Homo sapiens: one gene and its partners. The protein of the gene in region 4 interacts with the protein of the main gene of each other region in a pairwise test. Each region holds a gene or a part of one and is shown on either strand. Other genes may lie near its edges. The genes, in order: GLIS2, UBAC1, YOD1 and PLEKHB2.

Region 1 (7,035 bases), on a different chromosome or scaffold from region 4:
TCCGAAGGTTCCTGCCTCTAAGGGGAGGCCCAGGGGTCTCTGGCACCTAAGGAGGAAATTGATTCCATGGGAGAGGCCCTGTGCTGGGTGGAATTGGGGCGGGGGTGGCTGCAGAGAAAAGTGTCCCCTGAATCCCTTCCTCTCCTCATGGCTATAATTGTTACTTTATTTCACAGCAGGTGACTGAGACCACAGGGGAACCCCGGAAGGTCCTGGGTGGTCTTCCCCTCACCCAGATAAATGCCCTTCTCAGGGGTAGGGGGCATCCCCAGCTTGGCGGGGCTGTGTATTGAGCAGTAAGAGACCCTCTCCCTGCTGGCTAGGGGATCTGTGGGACCAGCTGAAAGATGCTCTCCACCCTCTGCCTAAGTTGCCTCCCTTCCCAGGGGCTATGAAAGGGTCCACAGAGATGGGTTGAGGCCCTGATGTGTATCTGGGGGTTCACGTCTCTGGGAACTTGCGCCCTGCCCCAGCCTGCTGCCAGCCCTGGGTGTGGGGACCACAGCCCTAGCGAGTCTCCCGGGCCACATCTGCCTCTCAGTGGTTTCTGAGGTGGCCGCCTCCGCCCCACCCTGGTGAATTCTAAGTCAGGCGTGGCTGGGGGCGGGGACTCCGCGCTTCCAACAAGCACCTCTAGTACTCTGCTGGGGGGCCAGCGTGGGGGCACTGCTTTGATCCCAGGGACTGGAGAGGGATCATGGTGATGATGGTGGCAGGGTCTGCAGGGCACAGCCTGGAGGAGACCCAGGTTTCTCTCCTGGCTCCGGCTTAGCCCCTGGGTGAGGCTGGGCAGGCACGGAGGCCGGGTACTCGCCTTCCACTCCCCCACTCCCCCAGATGGGCTGGAGGATTCTGGTTAGCTGGTGGCCAGGCTAAGTGGGCCTGGGGGGCATGGAGATGGGAAGTGATTCCAGCTGAGGGGTGGGGGCTTCCCATCTGCCCCAGCAGCCCCTGCTGGGGGATGGGTGGGGGCTGAGACTCTTCCAGTTCGATGGCTGGGGGGCGGGTGACTTGGGCTCCTCGTGCCCTTTGTCTTCGGTGCTTGAGAGGCCAGGTAGTGCCCACCGCAGGGAGGGGCCGGCCTGTGAGTGTCACATGTGCGTGCACACGGACTCCAGCCTTGGCAGATGGCTGCCGGGGAAGGGACGGAGACCCAGCCCTGGCCCCTTCCTCCAGTCATGGCCAAGGGCGGGTGGGAAGCCAGCAGAGGCCCCAGGAGACCGCTGAGTGGACTGAGTCAGCCCCCGGCCGGGAGCCTCCGGAAAACAGTCCTGCCCGTCACATGGAGGGTCCCCACCGCTGGCACAGCACGCTCCCAGGGCAGCCTCGCTTGGACCCTGGTAGTCAAGAGGTCGTCGGAGGCCGGTGGGGGGAAACTGAGGCTCTGAGACATTTGAGGGTTTGGCCCGAGGTCACTCCCAATCGGGGAAGAACAGAGGGGAACTGGAGTCTGGGGCTGTCTGGCCCTGACCCCTGAAATGTCGGTTTAGCCTGGGAATCCCCCCAGCTCCACTCCTGCCCCCCACGTCCACTGCAAGGGCATGACGGGGGCCAACGTGTCTGGAAGAAGCCTCTCCCCTTCCCTGCATCGTCTGCCTGGGGCTGTCTAGCAAGTCCCGGCCTGCCTGGGCCAGTTCTCCCCTGGGCCACTCCCACCTTCATCCAGAGCCCCCATTCCCCACCCCAACTTCCAGGCAGACCGACTCTGAGCTGGGATGTCCCCTCCCCGCAAGGCTGTAGGGGCCTCCATTGTCCTCCCTATTCTGAAGTCCCCCCAACCCTGTGCTGGTGCTCGTCTCCCTGCCAGCCCCGGCCTCCCCCAGCACCCCCCGGAGCACCTAGTGGTCACCCTGCTTGGTTCTAGGGCCACTGGGCCCCGAGGGCCTGGAGCCACCAGGCCTGGCAGATCCTGCCAGTGGGTGTTCCCCTTTGGAAGGAAAAGGACCTCGATGGCTTTGGAGGCTGTCCCCGGCTTCTGGACTTGCTTTCTTCCAGAGTAGGCGAGCAGAGAGGGGCGGGTGGCTGAGGAGGAGGGCATGGGCTGGAGTCCTGTGTGTGCGGTGCCCTGCTGGGCCTGCTCTTGCCCAGCTATCTGGGGCTGGGGGCCAGGGCTGGGAGGGCGTGGCAGGAGATGGAGCTGGGGGGGATCTGGGCCCTTCCCACCATCCCAGCTGGCCAGGGTGGTTCCTAGGGGCCACCACACCCTTGTCCAGCTCTGTTCCTGGGTCCCTTGCCTGGGACAGGGAGAAAGAGGCATCTATGTCAGGAGACCAGCCCCTGCTTCTAGCCTTGACCTTGGGCAAGTCACATTCCTCTTTGGGCACGAACCCCTCCATACCTACCCCTCCCCTCCTCACTTGGGGGTAAAGGCGGGAATGTCTGTCGAGTGAATGAATACATGAATGAGACGGACTCATTCGCGGAGTGCCAGGTGTTGGGATATGTGAAGGGCAGGTACCACTGTGCCACCTAAGATGAGTGGTTGGGGTTGTTGGAGCTTCGGCTGTCCTCTCAGCAGGCCCCCTCCTGTGGATGGGGAAACCCAGGCCTAGTTTTCTCATTCTGGGTTCCCTGCCTCACTGCCCAGTTCACTCTGGTGGATGGGGTGGGCTCCGTGCCAGGGGCCGTGGGAACTGGGGCAGGGGTCTGCTGGTGAGGCCTTCTCTTCAGTAGCCACAGCGGGTTTGGAGCTGCCCGGCGTCCCAGACATGTCCCGGCCCACTCCCAGGCTCCCTTCTTGGAAGGAGGCTCTGGATACCAGGGCCAGTGGGAGGCCTGGGGCTGAAGGTCGGCGCTGTGTACACCACGCTGTGCACAGGTGACACTGGCTTCAGTGATGCATTGGCAAGGACTTGGACCCGGGACAGCCTGCCTCCAGCGGGGGTGGACAGAGGCAAGTCTTTGCCCAGCAGGCCCTCAGGTACCTGGACCCACAGCCTGTGTGCAGCTCCAGAAACCGAGGCTGGGGAGGGTGAACCAGGGAGCACTTGGTGGAGGAGGGGGCAGAAGGGGATGGTGGCTGGAGGAAAGAGAACAGGGGGGCATGGATGGTGGTGAGGGAGGAGCTGGCACCTGGGAGCATCAGGTTCCCAGGGGGCAGGGGATCCTGAGGAAGGGGGGTGCCAAAGGAGAGGGCCTGGGGCAGGAGGCTCTGGGCTGAGAGAGCAGGTGGCACTCTTCTGTGTAGAGCCCTCTGTGGCTCCCCAGTGCCCTCTAGGTTCTGTCCCAGCCTCTCTGAGGGGCCTCTTTCTCTCCTGCCTCCTCGTCTACTCCATGACTGGTAGGGTCACTGCAGATCAGCCGGGCCATAGCCTCTGGTCCTCTGTGGCACTGGGCTTTGGGGTCTGCTGGCGAACCCAGCTGTGCCCCTTGCTGGCTGTGACAGTGGCAGGTTTCCCCACATGGAAAATGGGGAAAATGGCATCCATTCGCGGGGTCATCAGGGTGATGGACTGTGTGCAGCAGGCATGCTGACCGGGCGCCGACCCGCAGGGCTCCCACCTCCCCAAGGCTCTTCACCCCATATCCATGAGGCTGACCCGGATCTGTGCCCAACCCCCTGCAGGAGCAGCCCCCCCCCTACACTGTTTCTCCCACCCCACCTTGGTCGGGGCACCCTCAAGGTCCGGTTCGATCTAGCAGGGCCTGGCGTTGGAATGCATGAATGCGTGGTTGGAGAACCGAGGCAGGAGGGCAGGCCAAGGTCCACCGCCCGCCTTACCCACTCCTGCTCTCGGAGTTGGCGGGTGCCGTTCCCAGTGGACCTGGTACCTGGCCCCAGGCAGGGGAGGCGTGGGCCACGGGCCTGCCCCGACCCCCCAGGACTTAGGAGCTCCTTGTGGGATCTGCCTGCAGCCAGGCGTGGCTTGGGAGGCGCGGTGTTTCCTTCGCTCTGGGGACCCGGCCTCATCCCTGCTCTCCCCCAGAAGCCAAGGCTCCTGAGTCCTGGCCCCGACACTGGGGCAAGGGGTTACTGTGATGTCCTGTGTGTGCCACATTTGTGCACAGGTGTCTGTACATCCGGGGGTGCTGTGGGTGCCTGCTCATGTCCTGTGCTACACTGGCCCATCCCTTTGCTGGCCTCAGATAGCTCTGGCTGGGTCTGCTGAGAATGGCAGTGCCGCCTGGCAGGGCCTGGGCTGTCTGTGCCCCAGCCTTGCTGGGCGTGCATCCCTGTCTCGCTCCCTGGTGCCAGCCCCTCCCAGGGATTTGGGTGGCAGGGCCCAGTGCTCTGGTCCCCTCCCCTCCCAGCCCGGGTGGGTGGGCAGGTGTGGGGGCTGCGGGGCGGGCTTTCCTCTGGCTGGGGCCCAGGTGCAGGCGGTGATCATAGCTCCAAGCACCCCCCCAAAGCTGGGCAGACAGGAAAATACCAGACATAGTTGTGCAAAGGTGCAGCAGCGGGCAGGCAGCGGGGGGGTGGAGGCCACTGCAGCAGGGGCCCGGAGCCACCAGGATGGGGAGGCCTCTGTGCCAGGCCGGCCCTGCAGCTGGACTGCCATGGCCATCTGTGTGAGTGTGCGTGTGTGTGCCGGGGCTCCCGGAGCCCGGTGTCACCCTCCCTGCTGGCGTTGGAGAAGGAAGTGCCTCTGGTGGGGCATCTCCTAGGAAGCCCGGGCTGGTGCAGGCCAGGGAAGCCCTCCGGCCCGTCTTCCAGCTTCAGCTCTGCCTGAATTATCTGGGTGACCTTGGCAGGCCCAAGTTGCTGTGCAGGGAACCCCCAGCCTGGGGCCGGAAACAAGAATCCTTTAGGTTACCAGTAGCTGGCAGCTTCTTTATGGCAGGCATGAGGACAAGGCCCTCCCTTGCAAGATGCCCTGAGTCCCAGGGACCATTGCCGTGGTGTCTGTTACCTACAAGGAAACCAAGGCTCAGAGACAGCAGGGCCTTTCTGAGTTCCCACAGCCAGGGGTGGCACAGGGGGCTGTAACCAGGCAGCCTGGCCCTGGGGCACACTCTGTGAACACGCAGAAAAAAGATCCCTGGCACATCCCATCTTCAGGTGCTTTCCCGAGGACCCCACGGCAGAGGGCAGAGGTCAGCCCTGGCTGGGTCACCTCGGACCCCTTGTGTTCCCACCCCGGGAGGGGGTCTGCCCTCCCAAAAGGTCCGGGGGTGCTGGCTGAGTGCCCCGTCTTGGGAGGGGGAGGGGCTGCCTACTGAGCCAAAGGTTCCCAGGGACGGTGAATCCCCCACTCTTCCAGGAAGTGCCGCCTGCCCTGGCCCCTCTCCTGGGATCTGCTGGGCCAGGCCTCAGGATAAGCTCCTCCCCCTCCAGTCCTGGGAGGAGGCCTGTCTGCGGCCAGCTCCTTCCAGGGTTGATCAGGCCTTCCCGGGGCCTTGTAGTGCTCTTTCTTTGATGCAGTTGGGCTCTGGAAGGTGGTTAGGGCCAGCTGTGGTCACTCCCCAGGATTGAAGAGGCCTGAGGTTCTTTGAGGGGCATAGGCTTGTTTAGGGTGCACGCTGGCTGGCAGGTGGCAGAGCCCAGGTTCTCCTGGTTCAGGGTGAGACTGCAGTGGCATAGAGGGGATGGCCAGTCCCCACTCAGCTGCCCTCACAGCGGTAGATGGGCCAAAGGCTATGGACTCATGCACACTGGCGACGATTCATTCAGCACGTTTTATTAAGCACCTACTATGTGCCAGGCACTGTTCTCCGTGCTGAACGTTACGGACGAAGGAGAAGCACTCAATAGTGATTGGATGTGCAGCACTGCATTGGTTTCTCCCTGAAACCCAACATGGGGGTCCTATATAATCCCATTTGGGATGAGGGGGATGAGGCGCAGACTGAAGAGACACGCAAAGGGAGTAGCAGAGCCGGGTGGGGCCCCAGATTTCGAGTCCGGTTCTGTTGCCTGGTCAGGAAGGGGGGCCCTGAGAGGACGAGCCCTCCTGCCTGGGGCCCCCAGCAGGCCCTGCCCCTGCCCGCCAGCCCCTGCTGCTGGGCGGCCAAGGAGGGTGGAGCTCTTGGCCAGAGCAGGGAGCCGCAGCTGGTTCCCAGGAATCTGGGGCTGTGGGGCCGTTTGCTTTGGCAGCAGATCTGCCCTCGGCTCTCCAAGCCTCCTGGTGGGCCCCCCACCCCAGCCAGCCCCTCCAGCGCCCACCCACTGCCTGCTCTGCTATCCCTCCTAGCCCCACAAGTCCCTGGGCGGGGAGGGGGTACCAAGCCTGAGCCCCTGACATAGGAAGGGCCAATAGTGAACATGGCTTCTGGACTTACCTGGGGTTGAAACCCAGCTCTGCCACGGACAAGCTGTGGGACCTTGGATGGGTCACTTCACTCCCCTGAGCCTCAGTTTTTGCATCTGTAAAATGGGGATGAAACAGCACCTGCCTTCACAGTACCCGCACCTGGCTATGGGTACTGTCCTCATGCTGCTTGCCCGTGGCTTCTGGTTGTGGGTTTGCCACCTACTTGTGCAGCCTGGGCTGGATGCCTCCCCCTTCAGCCCTCAGTTTCCCCATCTGTAAGACCATACTGCTGAAGTGATGGTTCCAGTAATAGACTCAGGGACACCCACAGACCAGGGTTTCTCTGACTGGTTCAGGAGTGACCAGGGACTCACTTCCTCTTTCTGTTAAATTAGAAGATGACGGGCTGGGCGTGGTGGCTCCTGCCTGTAATCCTAGCACTTTGGGAGGCAGAGACAGGAGGATGGCTTGAGTCCAGGAGATCGAGACCAGCCTGGATGACACAGGGAGACCCCCCCATCTCTGCAAAATAAAAAATTTAAAAATGAGCTGGGTGTGGTGGTGGTGCACCTGTGGTCCTAGCTGCTCTGCAGGCTGAGGCAGGAGGATCTCTTGAGCCTCGGCGGCAGTTAGCCATGACCACGCCACTGCAGTCCAGCCTGGGAGACAGAGCAAGACTCTGTGTCTTAAAAAAAAAAAAAAAAAAAAAAAAAAAGGCCAGACTTGGTGGCTCACGCCTGTAATCCCAGCACTTTGGGAGGCCGAGGTGGGCGGATCACGAGGTCAGGATATCGAGACCATCCTGGCTAACACGGTGAAACCCTATCTCTACTAAAAAAATACA
Region 2 (7,035 bases), on a different chromosome or scaffold from region 4:
CAGAGGAACCTGTCTTGTACAACAGGTAGTTAATGAGTTTTAGAAAATTATACCTGGCTGAGCACGGTGGCTCATGCCTGTAATCCCAGTACTTTGGGAGGCCAAGACAGGCAGATCACAAGGTCAGGAGATCGAGACCATTCTGGCTAACACAGTGAAACCCCATCTTTACTAAAAATACAGAAAAATTAGCCGGGCGTGGTGGCGGGCACCTGTAGTCCCAGCTACTCGGGAGGCTGAGACAGGAGAATGGTGTGAACCTGGGAGGTGGGACTTGCAGTGAGCCGAGATCAAGCCACTGCACTCCAGCCTGGGCGACGGAGAGAGACTCCGTCTCAAAAAAAAAAAAAAAGAAAATTATACCTGTGGTGCAGTAGAGTTTTTGGTGTGTCGTAAACATTCATGAAATTCCAGCCTGGCCAACATGGCAATACCCCTTCTGTACTAAAAATGTAAAAAAATAGCCTGGCATGGTCGCGGACTCCTGTAATCCCACCTACTCAGGAGGCTGAGGCACAAGAATCGCTTGAACCTGGGAAGCGGAGGTTGCAATAAGCGGAGATCGCGCCACTGCACTCCAGCCTGGGTGACAGAATGAGACCCTGTCTTTAAAAAAAAAAAAAAAAAAAGAAGGAGTTCATAAAATTGCCAGACTAGAAGAGAGTACCCGCTAGTATAGCTGTTAAATTTTCCATTTCCTAGATCGCATGAAGATGGGTCCTCAGATGGCAGGTTGCATCAGGTACAAGCAGAAACGAAGTCACTACTCTTCTGGGGAGGAGCAGGATGGAGTGGGGTGGGGGTGTGAGGGCCTCCCTACTCCAGCGGCCTTGGTTGGGGCTTTTTTGCTGCCATACCCCAGCTTCTGCCGAGAACAAAGAAGCAGAGTGACACGGTCGTCCTAGTGCTTCCGTGTTGTTCCTGGTGTGCTGGTGACACGTGGACTGTGGGTTTTTTGGGAATCAGTATGAGAATTATTTTGGAAAACTGCATTTCGTAGTCTGTATTCTGAACTTGACAAATGAACTAGCCTGCAAACTTTAGGATCATGAGGAAGCACCCCCAGTATTTCAGGGAGCAGAGCCATTGTCAAATCCAGAGGCACTTGAGGGTTCTCTGCCCTGTTGTAAATGGCAGGAGTGTGTCTTCCTAGTAGCTGCGTCCCCCCAACATCCCCTCAGCCTGGCCAGTTTTGTGTGAAGGAGTGAGCCCCTGAAGCCGTCAATCCCTTTTTCAAAACCGTTTTCAGTCTTGAGAGTAACAGAAATTCCAGTTACTCTGAAAATGCCAGTGTTGAGAGGTGAAGTGTGTGCTTAGATTTTCTTTCCCAGCAAGCAGTTGTGTGTGCTGGGTGTTTCAGAGCCTCTGTGGCAGCAAAGGGTGGTGGAAAGTGAGCTGCCAGCAGGGCGTCTGCCCGGCCACCTGAGACGTCCGAGGACGGCCTGTCCTGGGGTGGTGCCCCGGCCCAGCTCCAGGCTGGGCCATGCTCCTGACCCACAGGCTGAGCCTGCTACCGGGTTTAGAAAGTGCCCAGTGAGGGTTTCATCCTTTTCTGATAGTCAGGTAATTCTACCATCAAACCTCAGGGGATCTGTAAGAGCAAGAAAATAGTCAGCCTTCTCTCCGTCCAAGCTCTGAGTTCTGAAGGGTTTTCAGGCCAGGCTATGGAAACTGTGGGTATTTTGTGAAACACAGAAGTGCAGCCCCTCTCCTCTCACCCCACGATTCCGGCTGGGGAGGCGCCATATTTGGTTAGGTGGGCACTGTTTGGTGTGGTGTGCGGTGCTGTGCTGTGCGGTGGTGTGCTGTGCTGTGCTGTCGTGTGTCGGGCTGTATGGTGCTGAGGTAGATAATAGAGTGGAGTCGTGGAGCTCTGGACCGACTTGGGCACGAACATGCAGGCACATGTGCCGACCTCAGTCTTCATCACACGGCACCATCAGTGTTTGCCATTCTTCACAAAATGGTGAGCCGACGCGCCTAGCCCCCGTGTTCAAAGGAAAGCAGGACTCCCGCAAGCCAGTGCCACGTGCATGAATCAGGGACAGCTGTGTGCTGTTTTGCAGAGAGGATGCTGGCCGAATTGAGGAGCAGGATCTACCCCTGCCAGCAGTTGGCTGTGAGATCTTTGTAATGGCAGGGTTGGAAGGGGTCATGGCCGTCTGCTCCAACTTCCTCCTGGAGTTTGCACTCAGTAGCTGTCAAGATGGCTTCCCAGGTCCCCCGTGAGCGCTGCTCGGAGGTGGCTGTGGTGTGTGTGAAGGGGATCCCCTCACTGCTACCCATGTGTTGCCTCCCGTTCCCTGCCCGGGTGTGGCAGGGTTTCCAGGGCCCTGGTGACTGCGTGCCCATTGGTCCACCTTCAAGCCGCCCAGGGGTGCAGCATGGCTGTTGCTTCGTGAGCTGGGCCACGCCGAGAGCAGTCATGCTAAGTGCCCCTCTTATCCCAATCTCGGGATGCAGCATGGCTGTTACTTAGTGAGCTGAGCCAAGCTGAGAGCAGTCATGCCGAGCGCTCCTCTTATCCCCATCTCAGGCTCTCTGTGAGCCAGTCTTCTTTCTGGGCAGCCTTTCTGGCCCCTTTCATGCGTCTGTGGAAAAAAGAAAAACAGCTACCCAAAACTTAGGTAGATCTTTAGGTCATCAGGAAACAATGGATCTGCTGTTTTCATTTAAAATTATTTTCCAGATCTTTCTAGACCAAAGAAGCAATTCTGGTGGCCGCGAATTGTCAGTAGGGTGTGGTATATCAGAGCTGGGAGCTTGCTTCAGGAGTACTCCATGGGCTGGGGATCAGCTCACTGGTGCTATGATGCTTCATTTGGCATCTACCATTAGTGGGAATTCTTTAATTTCATCCATGGTGTAATTTCTTAGCTCATAAGAAAACCCAGTAAATTCCTGGTGTAGCTTGGGATGCCAGGTCCTATATTATTAGAATTACGATTTACTTATTTTCTACCTTGAAATTTCTATTTTTCCCCAGTGTGCTCATGGGAGCTTAGAAGATCCCAAAAGTATAACCCATCATAAATTAATCCACGCTGCCTCAGAGAGGGTGCTGAGTGATGCCAGGACCATCCTGGAAGAGAACATCCAGGACCAAGGTAAGGCTGCTGTGGGCGGGCGGGTTGGCAGCAGGCATCGTGCACTGCTGGGGGCGCTGGAGCCAGGAGGGGGTGGTCCACCCACAGGAGTCAGTGTTCTGAGCTGGACACGAGCACAAAAACGAGATCGACTAAAAGCATTCTGTTTTTCCTTTATTAAAAAGAGTTCTGTTATAGAGTATTTGTGAAAAACAGCAGAAATTGAAATTGAACAAGCAGCAGGCATTTGAGAAGCCAAATGTGAATTTTGCTTTTAGTTCTGTTTCAGAGCAAAGCCAGAGACTCCAGGGGTTCTGCAGGTTTCACCTTCGTTGTGGTGATGTTGGCATCCCAGTGCAGTGTTAGACACACACATCCATGTAATTGCTTATGGTTTTGTGTCTGGAGGCACTTGAAGAGCAGACATCAGTTTTGTCTGTGTCATTCAAATAATGCCTTTAATTGTGGAAGTCCTTGAAGTAAGCTGTTTTGAAAATCCTGGAAGTATTGCTAACAGATATCCGCTGAGATGACCATCAAGCTCCAAGCCAGTGGGGGATGGGCACCGTCGTGGGCCGAGGATGAGCTGCATCTCAGGTTTTGACCTCTGAGGGTTAAGACTAAACTCTCCACCCTCACAGACTTTTTCAGAACTGAGCCGGTTAAAATGCCTGTTGCAGGATTGTCACCAATTCTTTGCACAATTATTGGGGCCGTGCTGTGCCTGCCTCCTGGGCCATGGGTCACCTGGGGGTTCGTGCCAGGCCTGGGAGCTTGTACCTCAGCTAGGGCCATGCAGATATCATGCAAAAGTGAGGGAAGGCTGGTGTAGATGCTTGGTTTGGGGGGACCAAAGGAACCCATGCTCTTTTGAGACAGGGTGTCGCTCAGTCACCCAGGCTGGAGTGCAGAGGCACAGTCAGGCTCACTGTTGCCTTGACCTCCTGGGCTCAAGCAGTCCTCCCACCTCAGTCTCCCAAGTAGCTGGGACTACGGGCATGTGCCACCATGCGCAACTATTTTTTATATTTTCGTAGAGATGGGGTCTCGCCATGTTGTCCAGGCTGGTCTTGAACTCCTGGGCTCAAGTGATCCGCCTGCCTCGTGCTGGGATTACAGGAGTGAGCCACTGCACCCAGCTGAAGCCCTGCTCTTCTTCTTTTTTTTTTTTTTTTTTAAGATGAAGTCTTGCTCTGTTGCCCAGGCTGGAGTGCAGTGGTGCAATCTTGGCTCAGTGCAACCTCCGCCTCCCAGGTTCAAGTGATTCTCCTGCCTCAGCCTCCCCAGTAGCTGGGATTACAGGCATGCGCCACCACGCCTGGCTAATTTTTGTATTTTTAGTAGAGATGGGGTTTCACCGTGTTGGCCAGGCTTGTCTTGAACACCTGACCTCAGGTAATTTGCCCGCCTCAGCCTCCCAAAGTGCTGGGATTACAGATGGGAGCCACTGCGCCCGGCCGAATCCCTGCTGTTCTGTTCTCAGGGCATCCAGCACCCTTTATGCCATTTTGTGGATATGAAGTGATAACCAGTGTGTTGGATATACGTGTTGTTTTTTCTAGATGTCCTATTATTGATAAAAAAGCGTGCTCCATCACCACTTCCCAAGATGGCTGATGTCTCAGCAGAAGAAAAGGTAAATTTCAAAGTTTGCAATTGGGGACCTTGGTTGGTAGAAGTCTACATTTAAGAATTACAGGCTGGGTACAGTGGCTCGCGCCTGTAATCCCAGCACTTTGGGAGGCCGAGGCGGGTGGATCACGAGGTCAAGAGATCAAGACCATCCTGGCAAATATGGTGAAACCCCGGCTCTACTAAAAATACAAAAAAAATTAGCTGGGCATGGTGGCTCATGCCTGTAGTCCCAGCAGCTCAGGAGGCTGAGGCAGGAGAATCTCTTGAACCCGGGAGGCAGAGGTTGCAGTGAGCCGAGATCGTGCCACTGCACTCCAGCCTGGCGACAGAGTAAGACTCCATCTCAAAATTAAATAAATAAATACAAACTTAAAAAAAAAAGAATTATAAAGAAGTTCTCTATACTAGTTGTTCACCAACCCACGCATTCGCCATTTACAGTAGATGTGGTTATAAGGGGTTCTCTCTCCCGGCAGAGCCTGTTTAATCCGTGTCAGTCCTGGTCCCTCCCTGCTCACGGGACCAGCACGGAAAACCTGCCTCTGAGTTTTCTGAGACAGAGAGGAGGGTAGGGACACATCCTGCGTGACGGTTCACTCCCGCGCTGCTGTCCGCCTTCACCTGCGTGTGCTCCTGTTCCCTCCTCTTTTCAAGCAGCCAAGTCAGTCCTGACAGAAAAACGGAGGAAAGTGGGTAACCAACCACCACACAGAATAAGGGCTGCGCATGCAGAGAGTGGCCGGTGAGGGAGCACTCGCGACAAGCCCCACCTCACACCGCACAGCCTCAGCATCCCCATCGGAAAATCCAAACGCAGAAATGCAGCGCAGTCTGAAACTTTTTGAGTGCCAAAATGACACTTAATGGAAGTGCTCGTTGGTGCTTTTTGAGTTGATTATTTGGAATGCAAATATTCCCAAATCTGAAAAAACCCGAAATCCGAAACAGTTCTGGTCCCGGGCATTTCAGATGAGGGATACTCAGCTGCACTGTTAATGCTGAGAGAGGCTGAGTTCTGCCTGTCTTGTCTATTTCTTGCAAAACAGAACTGGATGTCGTTGGTGTTTACATTCACTCACACGTTATTGATTCATGGTCTGCACCGTCCACTTGCACGTGTACCTTAGGAACACCGTGCAGTGTGTTGTTTACTGGCTGCCCTAGAAGCTCATGTTTTGGAAAGCTCACTGAGCAGAGGAAGATGCGTTCTGCAAGTGGCGTGTCCTACCCCACAGCAGGGCCTGAGCCCGTGCCGAGCATGGAGCCTGCCAGCTAGAAGGGCAGCCACTTTCCTCTGCTGTCTTTGCATTACTCATCTCAAGGGTAGAATTTCTTACTCGTGCTTTGAAAGGCTAAGGAGAGTGTTCACCCCAGAGAAAGAGCAGGTCAAACTCTTTTGGGCTAGGCCCATGCCTGGTAGTGCATAAGCTATTTTTGGGTTTCATCTGGGACCATGGGTACCCAGGAAGAGCACCCTGGGCTTGGGTCCCCTCCTTATCTTCAGCCACACCTGGCCACGCATGAGTGACACACAGGCTGCCGCCCCACCCATCTGCAGCGGACAGATCTGGGCCTGCCTCCGCCTGTCCCTGAGTCAGGCCTGTTTCTGGGAACTGCTGCAGGCAGCATTCACAGTTCTCAGATTACAGTTTGACCGTTGGTGTTCAGACTTACAGGCCCGTAACTAATATAAACAGCGGGGTCTGACCATACACCCGTTGCCCCACAGCCTCTTGGATGGGTAGCTTGGAGCTAACCTGAGGAGCTTACCTTTTCTCTTCAAATATTTGCAAACTGAAACATTGTAAGATGTCAGTTCATATTTTTATGAATTAATTATTATTATTTTTATTATTATTTTATTATTTTTGAGACAGAGTTTCGCTTTTGTTACCCAAGCTAGAGTGCAGTGGCGTGATCTCAGCTCACTGCAACCTCCGCCTTCCAGGTTCAAACGATTCTCCTGCCTCAGCCTCCCAAGTAGCTGGGGTTACAAGTGCGTGCCACCACGCCCGGCTAATCTTTTGTATTTTTAGTAGAGATGGGGTTTCACCATGTTGGCCAGGCTGGTCTCGATCTCCTGACCTCGGGTGATCCACCTGCCTCGGCCTCCCAAAGTGCTAGGATTACAGGCATGAGCCATTGCGCCTGGCCTACATTAATTTTTAATTTAGTTTTTGTTTTTGTTTTAGAGACAGGATCTCACTCTGTTGCCCAGGCTGCAGTGCAGTGGTACAATTATAACTCACTGCAACCTTGACCTCCTGGGCTCAAGCAGTCCTCCTGCCTCAGCCTCCCGAGTAGCTGGGACCAC
Region 3 (3,706 bases), on a different chromosome or scaffold from region 4:
AACAATTATCAAATTGAGCTTTATGCATCATTACTCAGAAAGCTTGCCTTCCTTTCTTTGCTACTTCAGGACACAGAGTTGACATTTGCTTACTACAGCTTTAGATCTAGAAGTTTATTCGTGCAACAAATATTTATTGAGTAATTTATACTGTGCCAGGCATGTTTTGATATGTTTCTGTCATATGTTTTGATATGTTCCAACATAAGTTTCTGTCACTTTATATTCAGTATATATTTTCTACAGTGGGTAAATTTAACAAATGGAAAGGAATAGAACACTGATATTTTACAGAATTAAACCCCTTCATTGTAAGGGCTTTGTTTACATATTAAGTGTCAAGTATTTATTCAGGGGATCTTATTTCATTGTATTTTATCTGTTATCTAGGTTGTCCATTTACCGGTTGGACACTGATACTCTGTCAAATTCCTTTCAAAAATGACTCTTTAGTCTGCTGAAATTTAGCACTAGTACTTTAGTGTTCTGATCCTGGAAAATTCAAGGTGAAGCTTTATTTGTGGACCATCTGATTTAATTATTGAGGATTAAAAACCTAAACCTTTGCTCATTCTAAACTCAAGCTTTTAAGCCTCACAGAATTTACAGGGGTTTGCTTTTTGTTTGTTTGTTTTTTCATTTTTTACTGTGCTTATTAAACTCTTGGAATTAGTTATTAAAGGGAGTAAATTCTCATCTTGGGAATTTTGAAAATCTATGGACTTACAACTTTCAGGAGGATTAAATGTCTTAAGTTTTGTACTAGAGCAGAATGAAATCTTTCCTATTCATTGAGTTTTTGCCTGCCATAGAGGAATTTTTTTAAAAATTAAAATGACAGTTTATATTAGTGGCAAAGTGAATAAAGACCTCACTTTCCCACCCCACCCTTCTTCCTTTCTCTTACTTTTCTTTGGATTAAAGGTCAGGTGTAGTACTATGAAGATTCACTCCTGAATAAAGTGATTTCAGAAGCTAAAATTTAACATACCTGGAAATTTTGTGATGTGTTAGCCAAGTGAAGACATTAGTGTGTTCCATCTTTTGCTAATGGTTCATGGTTGATTTCTTCATTGTTTCCCATGAAATTAGCATAGTCAAGTGGTACCCTTGACGCTTGACTGCTGGTCAGTTTGACCCTGTTTTTAACAACTAATGTAGTCATGCCGCTTGATTATTCCATGAAGTCCCAGCAAAATAATAATGAGGAATTAACTAACATTATGTTATCTATCTAATTTGTCTGTGTCCCTAAATGCCCATGCCTAACTTGCTTCTCTAGTTTATTCCTTCTGTGGAGGGATTAAAACGTGGGTGTTGCAAGTTGCCCTAAGCTAAACATAGTTTTCTTACATCTTTTTGGGAAAAAAAATGGAATGGGAAGTATGCAAGATTAAGCAAGAGTGATTTTTTTTTTTTTTTGACAAATCAGGTGGCCTTCCTAAACATACTAAGAATTATGTTCTTTCATGTGTGGAGACACATTTGTTTGCAGCACTTTAAAAAATATATATGGAATAAAAGTTTACATGTTGGCCCTCTAGGGATCTAATTAAGGACATTAAAGTACAATTCTTGAGCTACTAACCATCAGCTCTTCTTAATCAAAGATTGCCATCAGTGTAGAGTGTATCTATTGGCACAACATTCTGGTGTTTTGATAACAGTAGAACTCAATTTCAGTAACTATTAGGAGCATGGTCTGTGCCCTAGCATTAAAAATGTTACTTATTATTATGTGAATATCTTGTATTATTATACAATGCAGTATTCAAATTTGTCCTTGTAGTGCAGAGATGACTGATAATTTCTAAAAGATTCGATCCTTAAAACTTGTTTCCAAGCAGACTTATAAGGAAGCTGATTTTTGAGTCAGAGGCCTTAAACGTGTCATATACAAGTGGCATCATTTTAAGTCCAAAGTGAAACACTTGATTTGAATAAGCTAGTTTATAAACTAAAGCTGTTTTCTTATGTTACAGTATTTCAGCACATTTCATTCCACATAAAAAGAATATTAAGTGTCCCTGGTTGTGGGAGAGTGTTTATTTTTCTCAAAATTATCTAGCATTTTGCTTACAGTGCTTTGAATGTTTGACTTAAAATTATTATTGATGTTGAATTGTAGGGTGCTGATTTAGGTCTTGATTCATACACATTTAAAGGAGGTTGGTAACCCCCTCATGGTAGAGTGAAGGGAGAAAAGGGCCAAGAAGACAAAGTACCACTGATAAAGAAGAGATTGTCAAATAGATGCATTCCTAGTCATGAATTACCCTTTTCCAAACATTTTTAAAGCAATGCCTTTGTGTCAACTCAACCCTTCTTCCCCATTTCTTGTCATAGAATGTAGCATGGCCATAGGTGAAAAAGCTTATCATTAAAGTATGAAACCATGAATTATAAGCATTTTGCCATGATGCCCTTTTATACATATGTTTTTAAAAGTACTAACCAACATATAGGAGTTTAGGAATGGTGAAGATATAATTTGATTAAGTTGTAGGTAAACAGAAAGGATCATCTTAGGCTCAGAATTTCTAATATGATTACATGAGTCTACTTTATAAACTGGTATAGGCTATGTAATTAGCCCGTAAGTTACTTAAAGGACCAGGGGACCTAATTTTTGTCAGTTTTCCAGTCACATTGGTGCCATTCAGGACTCCAGCTGTTTACAGGAAATATGTACTTAGCAGAATAGTATTTTTCCTTGAAAAAAATTTGAATTCAGCCTAAATACAGAATGAATATGAATAGTTTGTGAAAAGGGTTAGAGAACAACAATATTCCTATAGTTTCTGTATTAATGCAGTAGAGACAGAGGTTCCTAACGCAAAAAGAAAACCACAAGTAAAGACCGTCAAATTAGAGCTTTAGAATATGACTTGAAAAAGTAGGGATGGGCAAAACAGCATAAGAAAATATTTTTTCTTAATGCAGATGGACAGTGTTTTCTTGTTTTAAAAATGTTTTGCCTATTTGCCAGCATTTTTTGAAGTAATACACTGCTGCTACCTGGAAGATGTCTAACTTCATTTTCTACAACTCTTATGTGATTTTGCCATTGTCATTAAGATGCATTGATTTTATTTATGAGGTGTATGACTTTAAATATCTAAATGCTGTATTAAGTGACTTGTTTCAAAGGAATAAATGAAGTGAAAACGTTGTTTGAGTATATTTTGGGATCAGGGCAGATATGGCCACTGAACGGCTATTTTACTCAATATACATATTATCAAAAGCTTACCGAATCTTTAACTAAGGTACCAAAATCTGCCAAATATCACCCTTTAGGCGGACTCAATGAATGAGACAGGAGAAACTAAGGTATTTCTCCTTAACGAAAGGTTGAAATTCCCATTCATTGACTAAATTTTTTTCTAAATCCAATCCTACAAGTTGTAATTCAATATTTGTTGCTGACAAGTTGTCAGTGTGGAAAGGCTTAATATTTATTTTCTAATAGACTGCAATCTTTGTGAACTTAGATCTGTTTGAAAACAGCAACATCACTATAGGAGGGTTTATTTCATCTTTGGCAATGTCAACATTTAAACATGTATTTGAAGCAACCCTGTGGCTATTACAATTGGCCAGAGTTCAGGTTCCCTAACTAAACTAAACTATTTAACCCATTCTTTCTCATTGAAAGCTTTAAAATTATGGACGTGGAAGTATAATAATATCTAATCAGTTTGTA
Region 4 (7,035 bases):
TTTTTTGGGATATGATTTAAAAATGTAAACGTTTTCAAACATAAAAAATAGGGATGATGGTATAATGAACTATCATATGTCCATCACTGGCTTCAGCAGTTAACCATATCATGTCTAATCTTTTATCTCTACCTCAGCCTCCTTTCTCTACCTCTGGATTAGTTTAAGGGACATCCCAGATTTTTAATCATTTCATCTGTTAATATTACATTAAATCTGGATAGCATTTTGCCAAGTTGATCCCAGAATGGTTTACCAACTTATAATGCCACTAGCAGTTACTGATGCAGTGGTTTATCTGTGATCCCATAAAGATGGCCTGTTGTGCTCTAAAAGTTTTGATAGCTTCAGTAGGTCTCAAGTGGAATCATCGAGTTGCTTTAGTTTATATCACCTTTTATGAATAATTTTCCTTTGCACATTTTTCTGTTGGGATCCCATGGGATGGAGAGTTTTAAGCCCTAGCCTTGCCACATGAGAGCCAGCCTCTTTCTCAGCTTCCAGCCCACAGAATAGGGCTGTTGCCGCTGTTTCTTACTGTATAGAGAGCACAGATATTGCAGACGTGGTTGTTTAGGGCACTTCTGGAAATGAGTCCATCCTTGCCCTTGGCTCTCGTCAGTAGAGTAGAAGTAGCACTCTCACAGGCAGTACTCGGAATGCTTGCCGCCCACATAAGGGGCTGAGTCAGTAGGCATTATGGCCAGCCTGCCTCAGAGTGGTGACCAGGCAGCCCCCAGACTTGCTTGCTGTGGAAGGGTCAAATGGGTTTGTGGTCGATACACAGCAGCTTGTGTTGACAACCAGATGGGTGCTTTGCCACCTCCATGCCATCCTGTCTGCCAGGGTCTCACTGCCTAGAGCTAGTCCACAAGAACCCTCCTAGTCATGCACAGAGCTGGTTAAGGCTCTCTCTTCAGTGTGATTGGGACCAGTGGTTGGTCAGCCAATTGAGAAAGTACAGAGTACTGTAGACGTATTGTAAACATTGTGCTGTGATTTAACCCGCTAGTGGGTGTTCGTTCGGCTCTCCTATAATGTGGGGTTGAGGTGTTTGCTTTGAGTTGGCTCCTTTGGTTGGAGTCTTCTATTTCTGTCTTGTAGAGACCATCCTCATGACACGTCATTGCACTGCAGTTTCCAGGGGTAAGTCCAAGAGCAGACTTCTAGATTTGGGGACTATAGTCCTCCCATCCTCCCATCTTTTATAGTTTTCTTAATTCCCTGATTTGATGGTAATTTGTAAAAGTAACCTTCCTTTATTTAGTTTTTCCTGTAGTATCTTAGTTGCCATAGAAACTGTGTCTGCCTTTTTCTCATTCACATTTTGACCATTTATGTAATATTAGTTAAATTAGGCAATTATAATAAGTGTGACCTGGAAGCATCCACAGCTGACTCTGGCAAGGACTGAGCTCAATGCAGGAGCAGAGCTCAGCAGGAGCCACAAGAGAGTGGCCTGGTCCTGCAGCCAGGGGACCTCAGCATGACTTGCAGGGGCATCAGAATGTAGATTTTCCATGGGACCTTTTCATTAGGTCAGCTCACAAGTTCTATTGTGTTACATTTGGCTAGTTGGAGTTAACATTACTGAGCATTTTAAAATGTCAGGGCTGTGAAAGTAAATGCCGTAATTCCCTAGTTTTGAAATTTAAACATTGCAAAAATAATCACTTGCTTCCAGTACTGTTACCTGTACCAGATCAGCCCTTAGATTTACGATGGTTTCATTGTACTACTCTGTGCCTTTTGAGTTTTGTCATTCATCATCCTCTGTTGTATTTGAGGCATTAGTGGGTATAAATGCATACTGTAGCCAGAGTGCCTGGGTTTGTGTGCCCTTACTGTCCTTAACTGCTGTGTGCCTCAGTTTGCCCATCTGCAAAATAGGGATAAAAGTGCACTCAGTTGAGTAAGAGCATTCCAATGTATGTAGTGCTGTAAGTGGCTGGAAATGTTCACCTTTGTTACCACTGCGGGTTTCACTTCTGCTCTTCATCCACATGTGCACATCACTAGTGACTAGTTTTTTTTCTTTTCTTTTTTTGTGTGTTTGAGACAGAGTTGCACTCTGTTGCCCAGACTGGATTGCAGTGACAGGATCTCAACTCACTGCAGCCCCCGCCTCCCAGGTTCAAGCAATTTTCATGCCTCAGTATGGGATTACAGGCATGCGCCACTACCCCTGGCTAATTTTTTTTTGGTAATTTTTTAAGAGACAGGGTTTCACTGTGTTGGCCAGGCTGGTCTAAAACTTCCGGCCTCAAGTGATCCACCTGCCTCAGCCTCCCAAAGTGCTGGCATTACAGGTGTGAGCCATCAAGCCTGGCCAGCCAGCCTTTGAACCATTAAAGGAATAGAGGATCAAGGAGGAAAGTTAACGCTATTAATACCTGAGCAGTTTGAAAGCTACTTAGCTACTAGGCATTATAGCTGTGAAGCATGGAAGAGAGCAAACAGTATATTTCCAGTTGTAAATTTTAATCTTGCAAATTAAATACTAAATTTGTCTGTGGTTTGTTTTTTTGAAGTTTTCACCTCTAACATAAATATTTATTTTTTCTCTATAAAGACATGCAGTAAAAAAGAGTAGGCCGGGCCGGGCGTGGTGGCTCATGCCTGTAATCTCAGCACTTTGGGAGGCCGACGCGGGTGGATTACGAGGTCAGGAGATCGAGACCATCCTGGCTAACACGGTGAAACCCCGTCTCTACTAAAAATACAAAAAATTAGCCAGGCGTGGTGGTGGGCGCCTATAGTCCCAGTTACTCAGGAAACTGAGGTGGGAGAATAGCTTGAACCTGGGCGGTGGAAGTTGCAGTGAGCTGAGATCATGCCACTGCACTCCAGCCTGGGGACAGAGCAAGACTCCTTCTCAAAAAAAAAAAAAAGTTATATGTGCAGATTTAAGGCTTAATTTAAAAATTGGTTTGCGTGCATACTAAGAAGCTCATTTGCTTTAAGTGAGCATTTCCTTTTTGGGCTTTTGTTGGGCACTGTGTGTCTCCCATGTTCCCCATTTGTCTGCCACCCAATAAGCATGGTGTCGAGGGCTGAAGTAGAAATCAGAGGCTAGAATCTGAAAGCTTCATTAGGGTTCTGCTTTTTGCAGATTAGGGACTTTGGCCCTTAGTGAGCTGAGGATCTTGGTTTCCTCCCAGTGTGCGGTTTCAGGGATGTCGGCCACATGATGTGCCTGTTGTGGAGGAGGGCTGGGTCGCCAGTGTGACAGGAGACAGCAGATCCCTTTTGTGAAAGGAGAACTGGTACTTTGCGTGATGTTAAACTTCACAAACCGCTGCTCAGAAATCTGCTATTTTCCTTCTCTTTTAGGACTTTATGGACAGCAGCCTGCTAACCAAGTCATCATTCGAGAGCGCTATCGAGACAACGACAGCGACCTGGCACTGGGCATGCTGGCAGGAGCAGCCACGGGCATGGCCTTAGGGTCTCTATTTTGGGTCTTCTAGGGGCCTCAAGGTCTTGATGTGCATAGCTTCTGATAACCCTGTGTGCAATAATATGATTTGCAGGGCATTTCTGTTTGTGACAAAAGTTTTTAATAATAGTTTTAATCATTCCTTTGAAAGTAGTGATGTCATAATTGTACTAATCCACATAAGTACCACAGAGAAGGGTTTGAACTGTGCTATTTTGTTCAAATGTTGACTCTCCGGGGGCACTGGCTCATTCCAAGACTGTTCTTGTGCAACTCTCAGAATACCTTATTTGAGCATACCTGTTTTGAAAGGCATTTTCTTTTTAGAGTTAGGTGTAGTGCTTAAGGGTTAATTTATTTTCATGTTATGCCAGTAATATAGTGTTGTATGCCTATTGAGTGATTGTGGCAAGAAAAGCTACAGCTTCTTTGCGTTTAACTTTTTCAAACCACAGACCAGAACTGGTTGCATGTTACTTTAGGAGTTGTGGGTTGGTAAGCTCCCAGGTACTTCCCGAGGCTATGGTGTGAGAGCCCCCGTCCTGCCCTCTGGGGCTCCACAGGCCCCTGGCAAGGCCGATGGCTCAGGATGATGGGGCACAGCCCGCCTTTGAACAATCATGCTTCAGAAATCTGCCTGACCCTAGCTGCTGCTGCTGCTCACTTTATTCTTGTATGGCTTTGGTAGGCATACTTGGAGAACATATCCCACATTAGGAATTGATTTAAGCCTGAGAGTTTGAGGGCTTTAATCCTTTAAAACTTGGAGAAGCTGGCTGGGCGCGGTGGCTCACGCCTGTAATCCCAGCACTTTGAGAGACCGAGGCGGGCGGATCACGAGGTCAGGAGATCGAGACCATCCTGGCTAACACGGTGAAACCCCATCTCTACTAAAAATACAAAAAATTAGCTGGGCGTGGTGGCAGGCGCCTGTGGTCCCAGCTACTCGGGAGGCTGAGGCAGGAGAATAGTGTGAACCCAGGAGGCGGAGCTTGCAGTGAGCCAAGATAGTGCCACTGCACTTCAGCCTGGGTGACAGAGTGAGACTCTGTCTCAAAAAAAAAAAAAAAATCCTGGAGAAGCCAGAACAATATACAAACAAGTATGTGGAGGCAGATTTGCTTTATTCCAAGAGGCTGTTTGAGTGTGTGTCTGCCTAAGCCTCCTTATAGCCTATTTTTCTACTTGCTGAGAGAGTAATATTAAAGGAACAGTGAGGGAGTGGAAGGAGAGCCTTAGTTAGAGCGTTCCCATTTCTGGCCTTTGGGGGTTTGCACTGTGCGGGAGATGCTCTCTCATCACTCTGAAGGCCCATCCTGTGCAGAAGTGGGACTCTGTGGCTGTTCACTGAGCACCAGGGCAGACTGTAGCTGAGCAGACTTGGGTTATGGATGGGATATGGGGCCCAGGGACCCTCAGGACACAGGGACCGGCTCAAGGTACCACTCAGCCTGGCCAGGACCCCCAGCTTTGCTTTTGTTCTTGATCTCTTTGTGATAGAGAAGCTTAGAACATTGAATTTGGAACCCCAAAATGTGTGAGTCTTTGGAAAACCCATTCCAGCCTTTCTTCAAATGCTCTTATTTTCAGTATATGAAGTGTGTATTTGAAATATTCATATTTCTGTTATTTCTTGTTTTCAAGCTCTGAATTATTGCAGTTTTCTGTCCTGCATGCTTTCAACAGTGTGCTTTTACAGTGGCAGTTTAGCACAGCGAATGTCCCTGCCCCACACTCCATATGGTCCTGTTTTCCTGAAAATACACTCCAGGTAGCACAGACTTGTTATTTTGCCTGGCTGGTTACACACATGCTGTCTTGCTTTGCTGCTCAGCCACCTCCCTCTGAGGCCAACTTAGGCCAACCTACATAGGACTCCATCTTTAGCGAGACACCAGAGACACCTAGTGATGACCACGGGTCTGCTTTTCTCTCTGATCCTAGGGGACTTGTTGACATGGGAGTGTCTGTTTCCACATGGAAGGATGTCTGTTTATCTCTCATCTCTGAATAGATGTATGACAACTCTAGTGTCCATGGTTTAAAATGTTGCTTTGAGGATTTTCCATCCTGTATAAGAAGAATGGCTTTCTTCAGATTATAATCGTTATTAAAGCTGTATGTACACTTTACTTAAAAACTATTAACAGTTTTTCATGTTGCACTGGTGGTAATTTTGAACTTGGAATTACTGGGTGGGAATTCCAGGAACCACAGAGTATTGATTTTTGCTGCCAAAATGCTCTTGAAGCAGATGTCCCTGTGCTCCCCTGGCTGCTTCTGGCTGAAGGGGGGAGGTGTAGACTGAAGCTTGGGCACTCATGTGTGTCCCCTCCCCAGTCCCCATCCTAGTGGGGCCAGTCTCATTAGGCAGCCATAGATAAGCCTGGAACTTGGCTGTCATTAGTGACTTGATCCTGGTATGAAATGCATACTGGGTATAAGGTTGCTCAGGTATTTTATTTCCTTGGCCACAACTCCCATAGATGCCAATGTTTTGATAGCCTCAGTTTCTCAACGATGTCTTTTGTTTACAGTGCTACACTTAGTGTGAGTCAAGAAGTGCTTGAGTTACAAGAAACTTCTTATTCAGGTTTGAGTAAGCATTTTACTTCCATGTGTACTTTTAAATAATCCATACCTTGAAGAAGTTGGCCAATGATATTATATACATGCTGATCTGATTGTTCTTTTCATTCCTTGAGTCAACTTCAGGGTCTTGGATACTAAAGAGAAGGAGAACTGTGGTTAATGTTTTGGATCATCATTTGTGAACAAGGCCAGACTTTGCCCATTTTAGGCTATCCAGGACTTAAGGTAGCCATCTGGATCATAAGAAGGTCCTGCAGTTGAGACAAAATGACCCAAGTGTATTTTCCACAAGTTTTGATCCTGTGTAATATTTCTTTTTCCTTCCCTAGTGTATGTAGATACAAGGCATGGAATGCAGTTCCACTTTCTCCCCAGAGTTGATCTTTTTGTGATTGCTTTCCCGTCTCTAGTAGTATTCTGTTGTGTCTAGAGAACTGATTTTTTCCTACATACGCAAATTGTACATTTGTAAGTGAAAATGTCAATACATTAAAGCATTAACCTTAAAGCATGTTTCATTGTGACTTCTGTTGTCTTTAAAAAATTACTTTGTAGTAACATACTCTCAGCTTTTTCTGCTGTCCTGGATCATAAGAATGCCATTTATTGAGGACCTACCAAATGCTAGTATATTGTCACATTAGAGACAACTCACTGAATTCTTAGTGACTCTGTAAGGGAGGTATTATCCAAGTTCCACTGGAGGGACCGAGGCTCAGAAGTTAAATAATTTACTCAGGAGCGTGCAGGTAGTAGGTCTCCACATCTGATGTTAAAACGCCTTGTTGTTCCCTGTGCCGTGTGCATATGAGAATTTGATTTCCACAAACAGCAGTGGCCCGTGCAGTCACACTCTTGGGATGGCTGTGAGAAAACGGACACTATTTTTCCCAACCAGATCCCTCTGGCAGTGTGTGTCCAATAACTTCTCCAGCATCTTTGGATATATGACTTTTTTGTTTTATTTATTTATTTATTTATTTATTTATTTATTTAGAGACGGA

What was found.
Region 1: the proteins of PLEKHB2 (region 4) and GLIS2 interact in binary tests that used the Homo sapiens proteins (3 or more experiments, as listed by UniProt).
Region 2: the proteins of PLEKHB2 (region 4) and UBAC1 interact in binary tests that used the Homo sapiens proteins (3 or more experiments, as listed by UniProt).
Region 3: the proteins of PLEKHB2 (region 4) and YOD1 interact in binary tests that used the Homo sapiens proteins (3 or more experiments, as listed by UniProt).

The regions. Positions count from the first base shown.
Region 1 is NC_000016.10:4,319,051-4,326,085, forward strand, and holds part of GLIS2 (zinc finger protein GLIS2), read left to right. Parts: intron 1-5,597; exon of another isoform or gene 5,598-5,725; intron 5,726-6,219; exon of another isoform or gene 6,220-6,304; intron 6,305-7,035. UniProt on the Homo sapiens protein: Can act either as a transcriptional repressor or as a transcriptional activator, depending on the cell context. Acts as a repressor of the Hedgehog signaling pathway. Represses the Hedgehog-dependent expression of Wnt4.
Region 2 is NC_000009.12:135,951,367-135,958,401, reverse strand, and holds part of UBAC1 (ubiquitin-associated domain-containing protein 1), read left to right. Parts: intron 1-2,986; coding exon 2,987-3,107; intron 3,108-4,648; coding exon 4,649-4,722; intron 4,723-7,035.
Region 3 is NC_000001.11:207,043,314-207,047,019, reverse strand, and holds the end of YOD1 (ubiquitin thioesterase OTU1), read left to right. Parts: 3' UTR 1-3,171; downstream 3,172-3,706. UniProt on the Homo sapiens protein: Hydrolase that can remove conjugated ubiquitin from proteins and participates in endoplasmic reticulum-associated degradation (ERAD) for misfolded lumenal proteins.
Region 4 is NC_000002.12:131,143,304-131,150,338, forward strand, and holds the end of PLEKHB2 (pleckstrin homology domain-containing family B member 2), read left to right. Parts: intron 1-1,104; coding exon of another isoform or gene 1,105-1,146; intron 1,147-3,333; coding exon 3,334-3,470; 3' UTR 3,471-6,542; downstream 6,543-7,035. UniProt on the Homo sapiens protein: Involved in retrograde transport of recycling endosomes.